Homo sapiens: one gene and its partners. The protein of the gene in region 1 purifies or fractionates together with the protein of each later gene. This does not show direct contact. Each region holds a gene or a part of one and is shown in the gene's direction. Other genes may lie near its edges.

Region 1 (4,483 bases):
ATGAGCTTCCACATAATAAGCTCTCTCAGCCTGGCATCTTAGGCTGGCATCAGAGGCATTTAAGGACTCTAACAGCAATGGTTATCAAATGTGATCGTCTGAATGACTCCTGGGCAGGTTTTAAAAAATACAGATCCCTGGACCCCATACCAGACCTAATAAATCATAATATTCAAGGTACAGCCTGCACAGGGTATTTGAAAACACTTCCCAAGTGGCATAGTTGATCAACACACTTTAGGAACTGTGATATGCTTCCAAGATAGTTTCCCAGGCTCATTTCACATTAATTCAACATACAAACATTTATTGTACCTGCCTCATGCTAGGTACTAGGGAAACAAAGATGAAACCAGTGCCATCCTTACCTTTGAAGAGTTGGTAAGATAAATGACCAAAACTAGAATATTTACTATTCCCCAGGCACGGCCTAAACACTCACACCTCTGCTAACGGTCTTCTCCTTTGAGAATGTCTAGGTTCCTCAGCACCCGGGATTGCCTGTCCTGATCAATCAAGACAGACACCGTCTTTACCCCATTCGAGCCTCCATTCTTATCGCTCAAACTTACTCTGCTTGGTATTAAAATAGAACCAGAGAAGAAAAGGATTTACCCAAAGTGAAATAAAACAGTTGGTATTTATGTAGTGACTTCCATGTGCCAGTCATTGTTCAAAGCACTTTACACATGTAATATTTTAAAATTCTCAAAATAACCATATGAGATAGGTGTTATTACTATCCCCATCCTCAGGATCGAGGAAAGGGAGGCAACAGAAAAGTAACTTGCCCAAAGAGGTACCAAGCAAGGTTCACTTTCAAGCCTTATGCTTTACTGTCAAGTTGGTTACAGGGCTGACTGGAATACTGTAACTTCTAATTCTCAGGCCTGAGCACTTTCCTGCTCATCAATTCCTGTTTCACGACTTAAATTCAAGCACGAGGGCAAGAACGATGTCTTACATCCCCCACAATGCCTAGTAAGGGTGCAAGTACTTAGTAGGTACTCGATAAATTGATTGGATGAGCTGTCCCATTGAGGGGAGGGGAGAAGTGGATAATGATTTAAACAAACAACAACAGCTAAACAAGAGCAGCGGCCTCCAGGTCTCACGTCACCGCTAGATCCCTCTTGACCCCCCCGCCAGAGAAGGAGGACCCTCCCGCGCCCTTTCGGAGCGTCGGTGGCCCGGCTCCGGCTCTGCGCTCCATCCTCCCAGCCAGCAGGTGCCCCCAGACCCCCGGCTCCTCCTCCGCCGCCGTCACAGCCTCGTCCTCCGCCTCTGGCTCCTCCGCTTCCTGTTGCCGCGATCCGGGCCGGGAGCTGCGGGCGCCCGGGCGCCCGAGGCTTCCCGGTGCGCTCCGCCAGGTAACCGCTCGGCGCGAACTGCCCGGCCGGGGTGGGCACGGGGCCCGCGCGGCCCATTGGTGGGGAAGGAGGCGGCAGAGGGCCCGGGCTCGCCTCCGAAGGGGAGCGGGCCTCCTCCTGCCTCGGACGCCCGAGGCCTTCCTGCGCCAGGCTGCGGCGCCAGCGGGATGCGGGGATAACGGTGCCTGGCTCCGGCTCTTGGTCCGGGCGTGGCCGAGCGTCGCAGGCACCGCCGCGCGGAGATGCGATCGCCGTCCCTGCGAGGCCCCGGGGCCCGCGCTCGCCGCCAGCCACGCCTGCTCCAAGGCTCCTCCTCGCCAGTCTGGCCCTGGAACGGGAGAAACCAGGAGAGGAGCCTTGGACCTCTGAGCCGCGATGGCCTTCCAAATGCCCTTCCGTTCTTTGGCAAAAACCAAGAGCAAAAAGCCGAAACCCACACAGGGAGTTCCCAAGGTCACAGAGTTGTGTCTGCCATTTACGAATGTCTGTTCTTTTATTTAAGTGTTTGTAAATGGGCTACTGTTTTCTCTGTTCTGCCAAGGAATTAGGATTCAGAGAAGAAGACTCTAAAAATACTAATAGGCATATCCAAATGAGCTGATCCGCATTACTGGCCAGTGACCCTGGCCTTTAGAAGGAGATAAGGGAGGGCAGTTCTCTTCACCTGGGATACTTTGTATTTCTGGCCCTTACTCTGAGAATTGGCCTTGATGTTTTACAAAGTTTATCTCAGAACTCCATGTCAGAACTGGACCGGACTGTAGAGTTCTTCAGTCCTAGTCTCTTTCTTTCCTTTCCCTTCCTCCCCTTCCTCTTCCTTCTTTTCTTTTCTTTAATTTCTTCTTTTTTTTTTTAACTGTGGTTCTAGAGGTTAAAGTGATTTGCCCACACTCTTATGGCTAGTCTCTCTAGGGACAGAGACAGAATTGGAACCCAGGTCTATTATGGACACCTACGGTTTTCTTGAATGGAAATCTGATTTCAGATGAAAGCTGTACAGAACTTGACCTTCATGAAGCCCTCTCTGGATAGCATTCTTGGGAAGTGGCTTGTGTATTGACGTCCACAGATAACTATTTCACTGGTCAGAATAAGGTTAAGCAATAAGCATAGCCATGCAGAAAATGTCTGCTGAGATGAAGTAGATATCTGATATGTTTTTGACTTTTTATTTGTACGTTTCAATGGAGGAGCTAATGAATACTAACTAATAACAACATCTTGCTCATTTAGATTTTAGTCCTGTGTGACTAAATTGACTCAGTTATAGTTGTTCTTGTCCTAACGTATTTGTCACCAGTAAAAGTTCCAAGGTACAGCTTTCTGGCTTCATTTCATTTTTAACTGAATAATTGCCTTAAGGATATTTTTAGATCTCAACAAAAACTCCCCTCCTCTTGAACCTTAGAATCCTTCTGCTTCACTCTTGGCAAATCTTTGGGTCGGATTTCAGAACTGAATAAAGCCAGGATTTCCCCCCAACCTCCAAGATGTCTGGACTCTTTGTTTAGTTCTGTATTTAAGTTTATCCCAAGTTTTGTTTTTGACTGATGAACCTGTGACCCAAATCCAAACCTCAGCTGAATTTAGTATCAGCTTAAAACCACATTAAACTGCCATGTGTCATGTGACCTCTAGCAGAAACCAACGTGGCAGTGTTCTGTTTTTTCATGAGTGCGTTTCATTGGGGTTTTTGAACTGTGAAGACATTATTTAATACATGTGCTTTATTTTCTGTGTATTATTGCCCAAGGTCAGTCATCGCTAGAGGGTTATTATTGACATTTACTCATCATAAAATGTGATGTCAGCCTACCAGCTCGGAGTGCAGTTCCTGGTTTCCAGTTTACAACATTGACCAGTTGCTAACATGTTATCTCTGAGGAACTTGGAATGATAAATACAGCCATACTTAAATAGAAGATTCTTGGCCGTGTAGATAAGGAAAATAAGATAAGGCAATATTTTTGAACTATTCTATAATAGAAATGAGGATATATACACAAAATGACCCAGTGCTGTTTTCTTAGGGTGCATCCTTTGTTTTTCTGGTTTTGGTCTTTTCATCACAGGATGGCATTAGCTCTGTGTCTGCAGGTGCTGTGCAGCCTGTGTGGCTGGCTCTCGCTCTATATTTCTTTCTGCCACCTGAATAAGCACCGAAGCTATGAGTGGAGCTGCCGCCTGGTCACCTTCACCCATGGAGTCCTCTCTATAGGCCTCTCCGCTTATATTGGCTTCATTGATGGCCCATGGCCTTTTACCCACCCAGGTAGGTAGGGGATTTTCCCTTAGGGATTTATGATTTGGGGGTAGTCTTAGAAGTATGGGACTTTTAAACAGAATTTGTACAATACTGAAGACTAATTCCCATTATAATTTTGTATTGGAATCCTTATTCTTCTTCATTGTTAACTCTGATATTGTTTATGTCACCTGTTGTTTCTGCTTTTCATAACTCTCTACTTTTAAAACAGATTTTAAATTGCTTGTTACAATTTAATTGGAAATACAAAAACTATAAAGCCAGTATCAACATCTTCCACTACCACCCCCGAAAAGACAAAAATAGAACTGTATCATACATATTTTTGGCAACTTGCAACTTTTACTTGACTGTCTATTCAAAAGACAGCATCTTTCCATGTCTATGTTAAGAGGATGAGATGTTCCTTATCCTTTTTGTTACTAGATGTACAAGTGTTACTTTCAGAAGTATGCAATTTTTTTTTTTTTGAGATGGAGTCTTGCTCTGTTGCCCAGGCTGGGGTGCAGTGGCTCAATCTCAGCAAGCTCCGCCTCCCAGGATCACGCCATTCTCCTGCCTCAGCCTCCCGAGTAGCTGGGACTACAGGTGCCCGCCACCATGCCCAGCTAATTTTTTTTGTATTTTTAGTAGAGATGGGGTTTCACTGTGTTAGTCAGGATGGTCTCGATCTCCTGACCTCGTGATCCACCCGCCTTGGCCTCCCAAAGTGCTGGGATTACAGGTGTGAGCCACCGCACCCGGCCAAGTATGCAAAAATTTTACCCCCTTGTATTAATTGGTTGGGGCTGCCATAACACAGTACCACAGAGTGGGTGGCTTAACCAGATGTTCATTTTCTTAAAAT
Region 2 (4,022 bases), on another chromosome or scaffold:
TCACTTGGGTCTTTTCTCATTACAGGAGACAACCCTAAATCCACCCAGCTTAAGCAAAAAGATGAAGTTATTAGAAGGATATTGCAATATCTCATAGAATAACCGAGACTTGGGATTTTGCTACTTAAAGTGTGTTTTGCTACTAAAAGTATGAAAGTTTGTTTGGCATGTTCCACCCTAGACTAATCAGAACCTCCCTTTTTACAAGATTTCCAGGTGTTTTCTCTGCACATTAATGTTGAGAAGCACTGGCCTAGAGCCTTGAGCTTTCACCTCTCCACCCAAGGTTGGAGATGTGGCATTGACCCAAGGAGGGTCATTGATGGAGAAGGAGATGCCTTGTCAGCTGTGGCTTAAAAGGACTTGACATGAATTGAGCTACCATTTGTTATTAACAACCCAAAGAGAAGGCATCAATAATCTCACATGGCAGTTTATCACTTAGACCCTTGGTTAAAAAAAAAAAAAAAAGGGCATTTTATTAAATTGTAAATGATAATCCTAATAGCCACCTTTTGTTGAATACCTGCTTTATTATGGGCATGTCATTTGCTTAGCATTCTTCACAAAATGCTGGACGGGTTGTGTAGCTGATGATTTACTCTGGGCAGATACCCTGTACACAGGACTTTGAGAGTGCTTGAGTTAGCTGAATGGAAAAAACTTGGCGTTGGGTGGCTATGTTAATTCACATAATAATATTACCATGTTTCATACTCATAGACTGCTCAAATCTCATCAAATCCTCCAACATCTGTCCCTACTGCACCAGCTCTTTCTTCTGTAATTGCTCCAAAGAACTCGACTGTTACATTGGTCCCAGAACAGGTAACAACAACAATCATTGCATTTAATTGATGTCTTTTCCTGATTTGTAAGCACCTTATATACAGTTTGTCTTTTCTGGTTAACAACATTGAGATGTAGGTACACTCATTTCACAGAGGAAGAGACTGAGGCTTAGTAATACTATGTGACTTACCATAGTTCAGTTCCAAGAAGGAGTAATCCCATGGGTTCTGTCTGCTTCCAAAGCCCAACTTTGTAAGAGTTGTGCTTGCCTAGCGGCTTTCATGGCTTTCTGGAGCCTTGACTGTGGACTGGATCTAGGGTCCATCAGCTAATTCCTGTTACTTCTGGTAGGACTGTCACATATTTCAGAGAGTTTAGTAAATGGTAGTCTTATTACTTGTATTTATTATGCCAACTGAATTGTATTTACTTCTTTGTGTATATCAGTTTATCCAAGGTACCGATAAACAATTATTATATGAGGCTAATTTCCGTTCTGCTGTAAAGGAACTATAATTGAAGATTTTGTTGTATTATTTTTTTCTTATATAAAAATGCATGTGACTAATTCCTCTTAGAATTTAATACAGGAAGAAAAGGTGTTTCTTTATTCCTTCTTCTTTAATACCATGAGAACTGGATAACCCTCATTTGTTTTTCTTTTACCCTATTGGTTGCCAAGAAACTCAGGATAACTTTTGCCATTTTATCCAGGTTTCTGGTACCTTCTTCTGCTAGGTACCTGGTACTTCTCCCCTCTCCATATTGGGTTCTAATCTTTTTTTTTCCTTTCATTTTTAAAATTCCTAAAGCATATTTTGGGGTTTATTACAAGAGATCTCAAGTCCTTTTAGAAGGTGACAAGGTATACATTTGTAAAATAACTATATGTATATTTATATGAAATTAAATTTAAGTTTGAAAATATTAAATTTTGCAAAAGCATTTTTTCATCCAGCAAATGTCCCATGGGGGCAGGAAACAAGGTAGTTATTCTTTGTGTGTCGCACTGACTGGTGATTGTGTTGCTCTCTACAGATTGGAAAACTGCACAGTGAATTGGATATGGTGAAAATGAATGTGCGAGTGATGTCCGCCATATTGATGGAGAATACTCCTGGGTCTGAAAACCATGAAGACATAGAGCTTCTGCAGGTGTTGTACGATTTCAGGGACTATCAGTCAAAGTGTCTCTTAAAGTTATTCTCTAAACTTTGAGTTTGGAGATGGAAGACACCTTAATATTGTCTAGTACATCCTCCTACATCCTGATTTCAGTTGATTTCTAAACTTAACAAAAATATCCAAGAATGACTTTGTCAGAAATGCAGTAGTAACTTAGACATGGTTTTTAGCCTCTTGCAACAAATAATTTATTATAAGTTATAACCTTGGTCATGTACAATCAATTCTCTAGTTGTTTTAAGTATGTAAAAATTGCCTCTATTTTCATCCACTCAACAAACATTGAGTAACTGTGATATAGGAAGGGATGTAGAAATGAGAAGGAGGCTATTCTAGTCCTTAAGAGTTTATGCCTAATGAGCAAGATTGGTTTGTAAACAACAAACATAATGAAGTATTATAGATACTGTAGTATAAATTTGTTCAGTATATGGTGGGATCATGGGTGGGGAGAAGGAGAGATGTGAGGTTTTTAAGAATGGTCTAGATGGAGGCAATGCTCGAGCTATAGAGGAACAAGTAGACAGGGCATTTAGACCTGCATGAGTAGTTCTACAGCCCTCCTATGCCTTCTGCTATGTCTGTGTATACATATACTTTATTTTTCCCTCTACCAGTTTGCTCTTCTAATTATTTTAAATTTTAAAACTTATTAATTTTAGAAGCAGTTAGAAAAAAAAATCAGTTTCTAGTTTCTAAGTCCCTTTGTTGCCAAGTTAAGAAGCTTAAGATATTTTTACTTTTCTCAGATTCCCACTCGCCACCTCTCATGTTATTTTTCCTTTAACTTCTTAGATTGTTAGTAAATAACTTTTTCCTTGCTCATTTCTTATTTGGGAAACAAAAAAATTGTAAAAATTTTCCCAACAATGTTTCTTAGATATCACTGCTGTCGTGAATAGTTTGTTTTTTCCTTGCTGCAGTACACCCATGTTGGTAAACTTTGGTGCAAACTTTGAGTGCTTGCATATCCAAAAATGTCCTCTGATTGTCATGTTAAATGCAGGTTAGTTTAGCTAGATATAAAATTCTAGGCACAAAATTCTAGGCCTTTGAAGATACTGCTTCACTGTTCTCTTACACCCACTAATGCTGATAGAAGTATTATATTATTCTGCTTCTTAATCCTTTGATTAATAATATTTTTTTCTAGTTGCATTTGTTATTTTTCTACGTTAATATTTCAGAAATTGTACTGTTCCCTCTGAAGAGATATATGTACATGTGTGCAGATGTTTGTTTAACTTACTTATCTTCCTTAGTAGATGATAGGCTTTTTTGCCTTATCAACTTATGTGTATTTTTAATTCTAGGAATTCTCAGCTCCTACTTTAAATATTGACTTTCTACCATTCTTTCTATTCTCTTCTTATGGAACTTTAAGACGATGAAACTTCCAGTTGGATTCATTTGTCTCTTAACATTTCTTTTATACTTTTCATTTCTTCATTCTAAGTTCTGGGATAATTTCTCTGTTTAATGTATTTCTCTAAAACTTGTAATTGAGTTGCTTATTCAGTCCTTCTAATAAATGTTTCAACAATTTCTTTCTATTAAAAATATGTACTTTAAACATATTTACTATATACAAATATGTACATAATTTTAAAATATTTTTAAAATATGTTGGATTTTTATAACAGTTCTTTCATTTCATGGTTCTGCTTTTCTTTATCTTTCCAAGGATAATAATTATATTTAACGCTGCTTTTTTGTTTGTTCTGTGGACTCTCCTTTGCAAATTTTTTGTTCATTTTTTAATTTGCATTCTCCAGTGTTCAGCTGGATTGCTGATAGTGAGCTCATTTTTGTGTGAGACTCTCTGCCAGCTGGTCTGCATTCTCTGCTGACCCAGCTCACCCATGCTGAAGGGAGGATGTAATTGCTACTGCTGTGCTTGATAATATTTTCAGAGTATGGTATAGCAACATGGGATGATGCTGTTTGGGATCCATTTATGGATGGTCTTCTGGATTATGTATTCTCTATTTTTTTCCTGAATGCTACTAGTGCCTAGAAATAATACCCTATCCCTCTGTCCCAAT
Region 3 (4,312 bases), on another chromosome or scaffold:
GAACCTGGCCGTGGAGAAAGCCGTGAGCGAGCTGCCTTCAGAGTGTGGCTTCTGCCTGCGCCAGTTTCCCCGCTCCCTCCTGGAGAGGCACCAGAAAGAGGAATGCCAGGACAGGTAACTGAGGGTCAGGGGCTTAGCCTTACAGGCGGGGCCCAGGACTGCTGGGAGCCCACCCTGGTGCAGCAGGGCCCTGTGCAGGGTGGTCTGGCTGTCTCTGCTGTCTGGGCCTTGGGGACCACCTGTGTAGCCCAGTGACGGCCCTGTGGGAGGGTGCCTGCACAGGATGGGGACAGGTGGGTTTTGCACCCAGTTGTTATCCGGACATGAGCCTAGCCTTCCAGTGCTCTTTGTGGCTGTGGGGGAGCCCCTTGAAGGGCCCAGGACAGCGTGTCCAACGCAGGACCTCAGGGAGCTTGGTGTGAGGGTACACTGCCCATGGCTACCCATCCAGTGGAGGCAGCCACCAAGTCTCCTGCAGTGAGGCTGTGCAGGACCACCACTGCCAAACAGAGGAGAGAACCACGCCATGGTGCGGGGCACACAGGCTCAAGCTTGCACTCTTCCTTCCCCTCTCTCTCCCTTTTTCTGCCTGTCTCCTTTCTCTCCACATGCTGCCACTCTGACCTCATCCTGGGGGGTGGGCTCACAGTTACGTGTGTCCTGCAGGAAGGGGTTCTTAGCTGGATGGAAGCCATATGGGAGGACAGCTTGTTGCAGCCTCCTGTTCGGGGCTCAGTCTGTGAGTGATGTACCTGCCTCCCCCAGGGTAACCCAGTGCAAGTACAAACGCATCGGCTGCCCATGGCACGGCCCCTTCCATGAGCTGACGGTGCACGAGGCTGCGTGCGCCCACCCGACCAAGACAGGCAGTGAGCTGATGGAGATCCTGGATGGGATGGACCAGAGCCACCGCAAGGAGATGCAGCTGTACAACAGCATCTTCAGCCTGCTCAGCTTCGAGAAGATTGGCTACACAGGTGAGGCGCCCCGCCGCCTGCTGCATGCCACACAGGTGTGGGTTGGGGGGCTGGCAGCCAGGAGTCTGGGGGCAGCAGGCTCTGGGCACTGGGCACTGACAGCGCCGGACAGCCGGGCTCTGGACAAGCTCCCGGTGGACAGGTGGACACCTCGGTCGAGAAGACAGGCCGGAGACTGAGTGGAAGGAGGGGCCGAGGCAGACCCCAGGTGCACACCTGTGTGGCTCTCACAGCAGCCCCGCCCACCTGTCCTCGCCACCCTGGCTTCACCATCCCTGCAAGGTGGCATCTCACTGTGGGGCTCCAGAGCCTCAAGACAGTCAGGGTCTAACCAGAAAGTGGGCAGGTCTCAGGGGGCCTGGGAGCTAGGGGCCTGCCCCTCGGACCCTGGGGCAAGAAGAGCACCCTGCCGAGTGAGGTCCTACCTGCAGGCAGTCACTGCCCCGGCCATGGGCCTCTCAAGGCTGGCACGAAGCCATTCAGGGAGAGGGCTCCACAACAAGCTGAGGGTGCCCGACTCAAACTGTAGAACCGGGAGTGGACACCCACAGACGCCCAGGCTGGATGCGTGCGCAGGCACACTGGATCTCGTGGCTCTCTGGGCCGCTGCCACCGCCTTTGAACGTGTCGGGGAGCAGGAGCCAGGCCAGAGCCTGGCCCAGAGGACAGCGAGAAGCACCTGTTGATGCTGGGGCCACTGGAGGAAGCTCCATCCCTCTACTCTCAGCCCACACCAGGCGGCCAGCTCAGAGCACCAGGCGTGGCGCAAGCAGGGTGGTCGTGGGCAGCCAGTCCCGCCCTGCTGCCTGGACTGTGCCCAGCGGGATGTGGGCCCGAGCAGGCCAGAGAGGCCGAGGGCCTGGGGTCTCTGCGGCAGCCACAGCCCGTGGTGAGTAGCAGCCTTAGCTGTCCTGGAGATACCGGGGCCTCGTGGAGTCTAGGCAGGCTGGGGCACTGTGGCTGTGGCCGTGGCCAGGTGAGAAGCCCCATTCGCGCAGGAAAGACTGGCCACCTGGGAACCCACGCCTCCACGGAGGGACTTGCCGGCCACAGGCTGTGGGCTGCCCAAGAGGACTGTGCAGGCAGGGCTGCCTGCTGATTGGCAGCTCCGGATCAGGCCCGGTGCCTGCAGACCTGGTGCTCCCCTCGGGCAGGGCTGGGTGCCGCAGCCGCCTGCTGGCTTTTCTGGCAGCTCCTCTGTATCAGAACCAATAAAGTGCACTTGTTCTCGGAACCGCATCCTGTCTGTGTGTCTGCTTACCCCGCCCTGGGGGACACCCGGGGCTCGGGGCGGTGAGGGAGGCCAGCGTGGGTCGGGCACGCCTGGGGTGTGGCCTGACACGTGCAGCCTCTGGACTCTCCAGCTAATCCATGTTGATTCTGTTTGTGGTTGTTCCCCTCAAAGCTTGTGTGCACCTCCATTTGCCATAGTTGCGTTTGGCTTGCTTGTGACAAGCAGAGCCCGGTGTCCGGGTAAGTTGCCTTCCTCCCCGGCTGAGCCTGCCCTCGGCCTGGTCAGGGAAGGCGTTGCTGCCCAGCCCTGCCCACACTAACAGCCGGCTCTTTCCGGCCCTGTCTGTCTCCACAGAGGTCCAGTTCCGGCCGTACCGCACAGACGACTTCATCACGCGCCTGTACTATGAGACGCCCAGGTTCACAGTGCTGAACCAGACGTGGGTCCTGAAGGCTCGAGTCAACGACTCGGAGCGTAACCCCAACCTGTCCTGCAAGCGTACGCTCTCCTTCCAGCTCCTCCTCAAGAGCAAGGTCACGGCACCGCTGGAGTGCTCCTTCCTGCTGCTCAAGGGCCCCTACGACGACGTGAGGATCAGCCCCGTCATCTACCACTTTGTCTTCACCAACGAGAGCAACGAGACGGACTACGTGCCACTGCCCATCATTGACTCCGTGGAGTGCAACAAGCTGCTGGCTGCCAAGAACATCAACCTGCGGCTCTTCCTGTTCCAGATACAGAAGTAGGGCGGGGCCTCAGGATGTCCGAGGAGCCCACGGGCGGCATCCCAGCACCGCTGCCCTGTCCACCTGGCTGGCAGCTGCTTCACAGGACTATCTGATCACTTTAGCAAAGGAGGAGAACAAACGAAGCCAACACAGGGCAAGTCTGCATGCGTGCGCGACGGGGCCCCCGCCTCCGGCTCACCCCCCCGACCCCTGCCTCCCCTCCTTCCGAGGGCCGCCAGAGGCTGGGCTGACCCGAAGAGGAGACGGTGCACCAGGCGCCCCGAGGCTCAGAGACGGTGGCAGCAAGGAGGCCGAGAGGCACAGCGACCCTGCCCCAGCCCTTCTGTGCAGTCAGGCGGCGGTGCTGCTCCATCCCTGCGGGTTCCGGCGGGGCGCGGGGGCCTTGCTGACATCAGACGGGATATCCGAATATCTGATAGCAATTAAAAGGCAGCCTTGTTTCGTACTTTCTGTTTTGTTCGAGGGGAAGGCATGGCTGTGAATGGACAGCGTGGGGGCTTTGGTTTGGCCTGGGGGTCAGAGCCTGCCCCGCCCCCATCTGTGTGCCCGCACACGTCCCCCGAGGAAAGACTCAGAGACACTGCCTCCCCCTACACTCTGTCATGGGGTCTTGAGACTGAGGCTTGGGCAGGAAGATCCAGGTAGGGTCGGGGCTGCCCTGGCCAACCGGCCGCTCCCAGGGAGACAGGACTCAGCCACCAGGGCTCAGCAGGCATTTTCCGAAAGCAGGGTGAAATTGTCTCTTCCCAGGAAAAAGATTAAACTCCTTGCAGGCTCTTGGATAAGTTACACAATTTTAGTGAGAAAGAGTCTATTTACTGTAGATTCAGCCTTGAGGGCCCAGCGTCCCCAGGCTGTGTGGAAAGCTTGGGTCAGTGCTTGGGCGCCTGGCTGGGTGAGAGTCTGAGGTGTGTCCCCCATGCTGCTCTCGGGGTCCTGCTGCTGGCCCTGCATTCAGGGCTCGCTGCAGAGGTCAGAGGTTGGGCAGCCCAGCTTCTCACCTGGAGGAGGTGGGCCCTTCCCATCCTCACCCTGGCCGCCCCCTGATGTGCCCCGTGGTGGCTGAGCAGGGCTGGCCTAACAGGATGGGAAGGAACCCTGCCTGGAGGGGTAATCCCTGGTCCTTTCTTCCCCTGGGACTCCCAGGGCTACTGGGAAGGATACAGCTTGACGCCCCCACCTTTGCTTAGGAGATGTGGCTCTTCCGTGATAGCTTTTTGTTGCTTCAATACCAAAGAACTGGTTTCCTCTGCTCCAGTCAGGTGCATTAACTTGCCTCACAGCAGCCCAACCCGCCCCCACTGGCTGCTGGGGCCTGGCCCACATTGTCCTGTGCTTTGCTGGTCACGGGT
Region 4 (4,022 bases), on another chromosome or scaffold:
ACTGCTGTCTTTTTCCTATACATTTTTACATCATTAAAATTAGAGACGGGCTGGGCACGGTGGCTCACACCTATAATCCCAACACTTTGGGAGGCTGAGTTGGGCGGATCACTTGAGTCCAGGAGTTTGAGACCAGCCTGGGTGACAGAATGAGACCCTGTCAAAGAGTATTTACAACCCTGTATCTGTTTTCCTCAACTTTATGACATAGCCTTTCCCATGTAACTAAAAACTTTGGCTGGGTGCAGTGGCTCACACCTATAATCCCAGCACTTTGGAAGGCCGAGGTGGGAGGCCAGGAGTTCGAGAGCAGTCTGGGAAACATAGTGAGACTCTGTCTCTACAAAAACAATAAGAAAATTAGCTGGGCTTGGTGGTGCGCATCCGTAGCCCCAGCTACTCAGGAAGCTGAGGCGAGAGGATTCCTTGAGCCCAGGAATTCGAGGATTTGTGCTCCTGATGCTGCACTCCAACCTAGGTGACAGAGTGAAACCCTGTCTCTAAAAAAAAAAAAAAAAAAACTTCGTCAACATGATTTAATATTGTGAGAAGATAATGGATGTAAATTCTGTATATGCAAAATCCTGCTGTATTGGTAAGGAAGCTTTTAGTAACAATTCTTATGATGAGGGTGGATGCATTTTCTTTCTCTTAGGGCAAATACAGACCAACTCTTATGCTAAATATCTAGAGTTAGTATCAAGTGTCTCCCCTTTTGAGTATAACCGAGGCAAGAGTTTCTGCCTGTCATTGTTTCATCTTAGCTTTTCCTAGAGCCTCTACTAAAGTGTTGAGGTAGCTGACCTTCTAGTTTGAACTTGGGAACTTGGACTACTGTAGATTTCAATGCCGATCGTATGTTGCTTACTGCTACATTTTCAGTCTGAAAGACCTCTGCCATCTTCCTTTTCCCTTTGAAGTGTGTTTGAAAGGGAAGTGCTGTTACCACAAACGCCTGTAGTTCCTAGAAATCTAATGTGAAGTTAATGCTCTGAGGTGACCACATTCAAAATGTTCTGCCCTCCAGGCAATTGATGGGCTGGTCTAAAAATTTTGGGGAGGGGCTGGGCATGGTGGCTCACACCTGTAATCCCAGCACTTTGGGAAGCTGAGGCCAGGAGTTCAAGACCAGCCTGCCCAACATGATGAAACCTCATCTCTACTAAAAATACAAAAATTAGCCGGGCATGATGCTGGGCACCTGTAATCCCAGCTACTCCAGAGACTGAGGCAGGAGAATCGCTTGAACCTGGGAGGTGGAGGTTGCAGTGAGCCAAGATTGCACCATTGCACTCCAGCCTGGGCAACGAGAGTGAGACTTTATCTCAAAAAAAATTTTTTTTTAAGTTTATAGTTTCAAATTAGTTTCTCATTTCAGGTTTGAATCAATATACAAAAGCATAAAACTAAACCCTACAATAACCATAGACATAGTTATTTTTCGCAAAAATGCCCATCTACAACACCATAGAATAGAGTGGATAACTCCTATGGCAGATTGAACTGATTCTCAAACCATTTGATAGGTACCCATCTTGGAAATAGTTTCTCCCAGTATTCTCTCTGCATATGGGAACTGTTCTGTGTTCTAATCAGGTTTCAGCTCCTAAACTTCATGAAAATACAGTCTGTGCTGGTTTGGTTTTTTTGTATATTTGTTAAATGTTTGTTTATAATCTTATGCTTAGAATTTTCAGGGGCCTCTCCCTTGTTAATCTCAAACTTCTGCGTCTTCTGTGGCATTCTCCTCAGTAGTAGTCCCCCTTCATAATAAGTTTTAATGCCAGTGAATTGAAACCATGGGGTTCATGTTCCTTTTTAAAAAAAGCCAGTCAGCCTGAAGAATACCATCTGAGTCCAGAGTGTGTAACAGCTGGAAGAAAGAGAGCAGGCCTATGGCCAACATGCCCTAAAAACGCTTTTCTGTGGACAGTAGATTCAAATCACCTGAGATCTTATTAGAAATGTACGTTCCTTTTTTTTTTTTTTTCCTGGAGACGGACTCTGTCGCCCAGGTTGGAGTGCAGTGGCATGATCTTGGCTCACTGCAACCTCTGCCTCATGAGTTCAAGTGATTCTTCTGTGTCAGCCTCCAGAGTAGCTGGGACTACAGGTGTGTGCCACCACGCCCGGCTAATTTTTGTATTTTTAGTAGAGATGGAGTTTCACCATGCTGACCAGGCTGGTCTGGAACTCCTGACCTCAGGTGATCCCCCCGACCTCGGCCTCCCAAGGTGCTGGGATTACAGGTGTGAGCCACTGCGCGCGGCCAGAAATGCACAATCTCGAACCATACCCCAAACCTATCAAATCAGAATCTCTGGGATAGGAATCCAAGAATCTGAGTTTTAACAAGTCCTTCAGGTAATTCCAGGGCACACTAATGAAGCCATACCCTAGAAATCCTTGCACACGTGAGAATAACCAGCTGTAAATGTTTATGAAGTGAAAAGCAGCATTACCAAACCCAGCTATTAGAGGAAAGTGGCTGACTGAGCAAGCCGGCTGAATCAGTATCAGCTCCTGATGGCAGAGTGCCCTTACTCACGGAGGAAAGATAATGTAGAGTTGAAATGGGACTTGGAAAGCTTGATGCACAGAGAAGTTAGGGTCACACTGTTCGAGGGCTCTGAAAGGAACCTTCTTCAGGTGGTTTTCATGGTTGAGAGTAGTGGTTAACTTCACTATCACCTCAACAGAAAATTCCCACCATGGGCCTGAAAGTCAGGGCTTCAGTCTTATTGATAAATAAGTATGTAATAATTATTTCAGATTTTCATCCAAGGTTATAAATGTTTGTACGTAGGTGCATTGAGATGCAAACTTGCAGTTAAACATTAAAACCTAGAATTCAATCTTGTTCTGTTTGAAAGGACTTGGGGTGTTCAGAGCAATTCTCTTAAGGGTAAGTCCCAGCTGACTTGCATATTTTTCCTTTTCTAGATGGCGGACTGTGGGGGACTGCCCCAGGTAGTTCAGGTAAGGAGAATTTTTTTTAAACACCCATTTAATTCTGCTTCTCTGTCTATGCAAAAATTAATGCCCTCTTGTTTTATCCCCCCAGCCTGGGAAGCTCACCGAGGCCTTCAAGTACTTTTTGCAGGGAATGGGCTACAGTGAGTAGTACACAACTTTCTATCTAGCAACGATTTAGGAATATTGGGAGCCAGTTTCACATCTGGGAGCCCACAATTCTTGAGATATAACCTCTGTGGCAGCTAGCCTTAAGCAAAGTAGAAACTGAAATGTTTATGGAACATTCATTTGTCCGTATTTGTAAGCTAACACTCAGCACTTACTTTCATCAGGCAATATATATTCTTTTTTTTTTTTTTTTTTTTTTGAGACAGAGTCTCACTCTGTTGCCAGGCTGGAGTGCAGTGGTGTGATCTCAGCTCACTGCAACCTCCGCCTCCTGGGTTCAAGCGATTCTCCTGCCTCAGCCTCCCAAGTAGCTGGGACTACAGGCATGTGCCACCACACCCGAATAATTTTTGTATTTTTAGGAGAGACGGAGATTCACCATGTTGGCCAGGATGGTCTTGATCTCTTGACCTCATGATCTGCCTGCCTTGGCCTCCCAAAGTGCTGGGATTACATGCGTGAGCTACCGTGCCCAACCTATATATTCTTAATCTAAGAAGTCATTCTGTTATTAGTGCCAATTTATAGAAGAAGAAACTGAGGCTCAAAGAGACTAAGCACATTGCCAAGGGTAAAAATTCAGCTGCAGGGCCATGATTCAAACCCTGACAGTCTGACTCCAGAGCCCACATTTTGAACCCCTGCAGCTTAGGCTGTCCTAGGTGTGAATCTGAAATTATGATTTGCATTTAAACTCAGCTGGTTAATAACTCCTGACCTAGAGAAATGAAATGGAGACTCCAGGAGAAAAGGGCAGTATCCTTGGTAAAGTCTCCTCCACCCCAGGGGACGAACTTGGAGAGTGTTTTAGAGCAAGTCCAAGGGTGTGTCCATATCATATGCCATTGTCCTGGTCTCTTGTATTGTAAGACCTCTGA

Evidence for each region.
Region 2: the proteins of TLCD5 (region 1) and TOM1L1 purify together in Homo sapiens (affinity purification with mass spectrometry; one large-scale study listed by BioGRID and IntAct). This does not show direct contact.
Region 3: the proteins of TLCD5 (region 1) and ZFTRAF1 purify together in Homo sapiens (affinity purification with mass spectrometry; one large-scale study listed by BioGRID and IntAct). This does not show direct contact.
Region 4: the proteins of TLCD5 (region 1) and NDRG3 purify together in Homo sapiens (affinity purification with mass spectrometry; one large-scale study listed by BioGRID and IntAct). This does not show direct contact.

What each region holds. Positions count from the first base shown.
Region 1 is NC_000011.10:120,323,999-120,328,481, forward strand, and holds the start of TLCD5 (TLC domain-containing protein 5), read left to right. Parts: upstream 1-1,300; 5' UTR 1,301-1,370; intron 1,371-3,123; exon of another isoform or gene 3,124-3,377; coding exon of another isoform or gene 3,378-3,443; coding exon 3,444-3,642; intron 3,643-4,483.
Region 2 is NC_000017.11:54,913,916-54,917,937, forward strand, and holds part of TOM1L1 (TOM1-like protein 1), read left to right. Parts: intron 1-723; coding exon 724-828; intron 829-1,830; coding exon 1,831-1,947; intron 1,948-4,022. UniProt on the Homo sapiens protein: Probable adapter protein involved in signaling pathways. Interacts with the SH2 and SH3 domains of various signaling proteins when it is phosphorylated. May promote FYN activation, possibly by disrupting intramolecular SH3-dependent interactions.
Region 3 is NC_000008.11:144,449,024-144,453,335, reverse strand, and holds the end of ZFTRAF1 (zinc finger TRAF-type-containing protein 1), read left to right. Parts: coding exon 1-114; intron 115-765; coding exon 766-977; coding exon of another isoform or gene 978-1,156; exon of another isoform or gene 1,157-2,211; intron 2,212-2,565; coding exon 2,566-2,957; 3' UTR 2,958-3,754; downstream 3,755-4,312. Other genes in the region: TMEM276-ZFTRAF1 (uncharacterized protein LOC157542 isoform 1 precursor), read left to right, coding at 1-114, 766-977, 2,566-2,957.
Region 4 is NC_000020.11:36,655,454-36,659,475, reverse strand, and holds part of NDRG3 (protein NDRG3), read left to right. Parts: intron 1-2,943; coding exon 2,944-2,979; intron 2,980-3,064; coding exon 3,065-3,116; intron 3,117-4,022.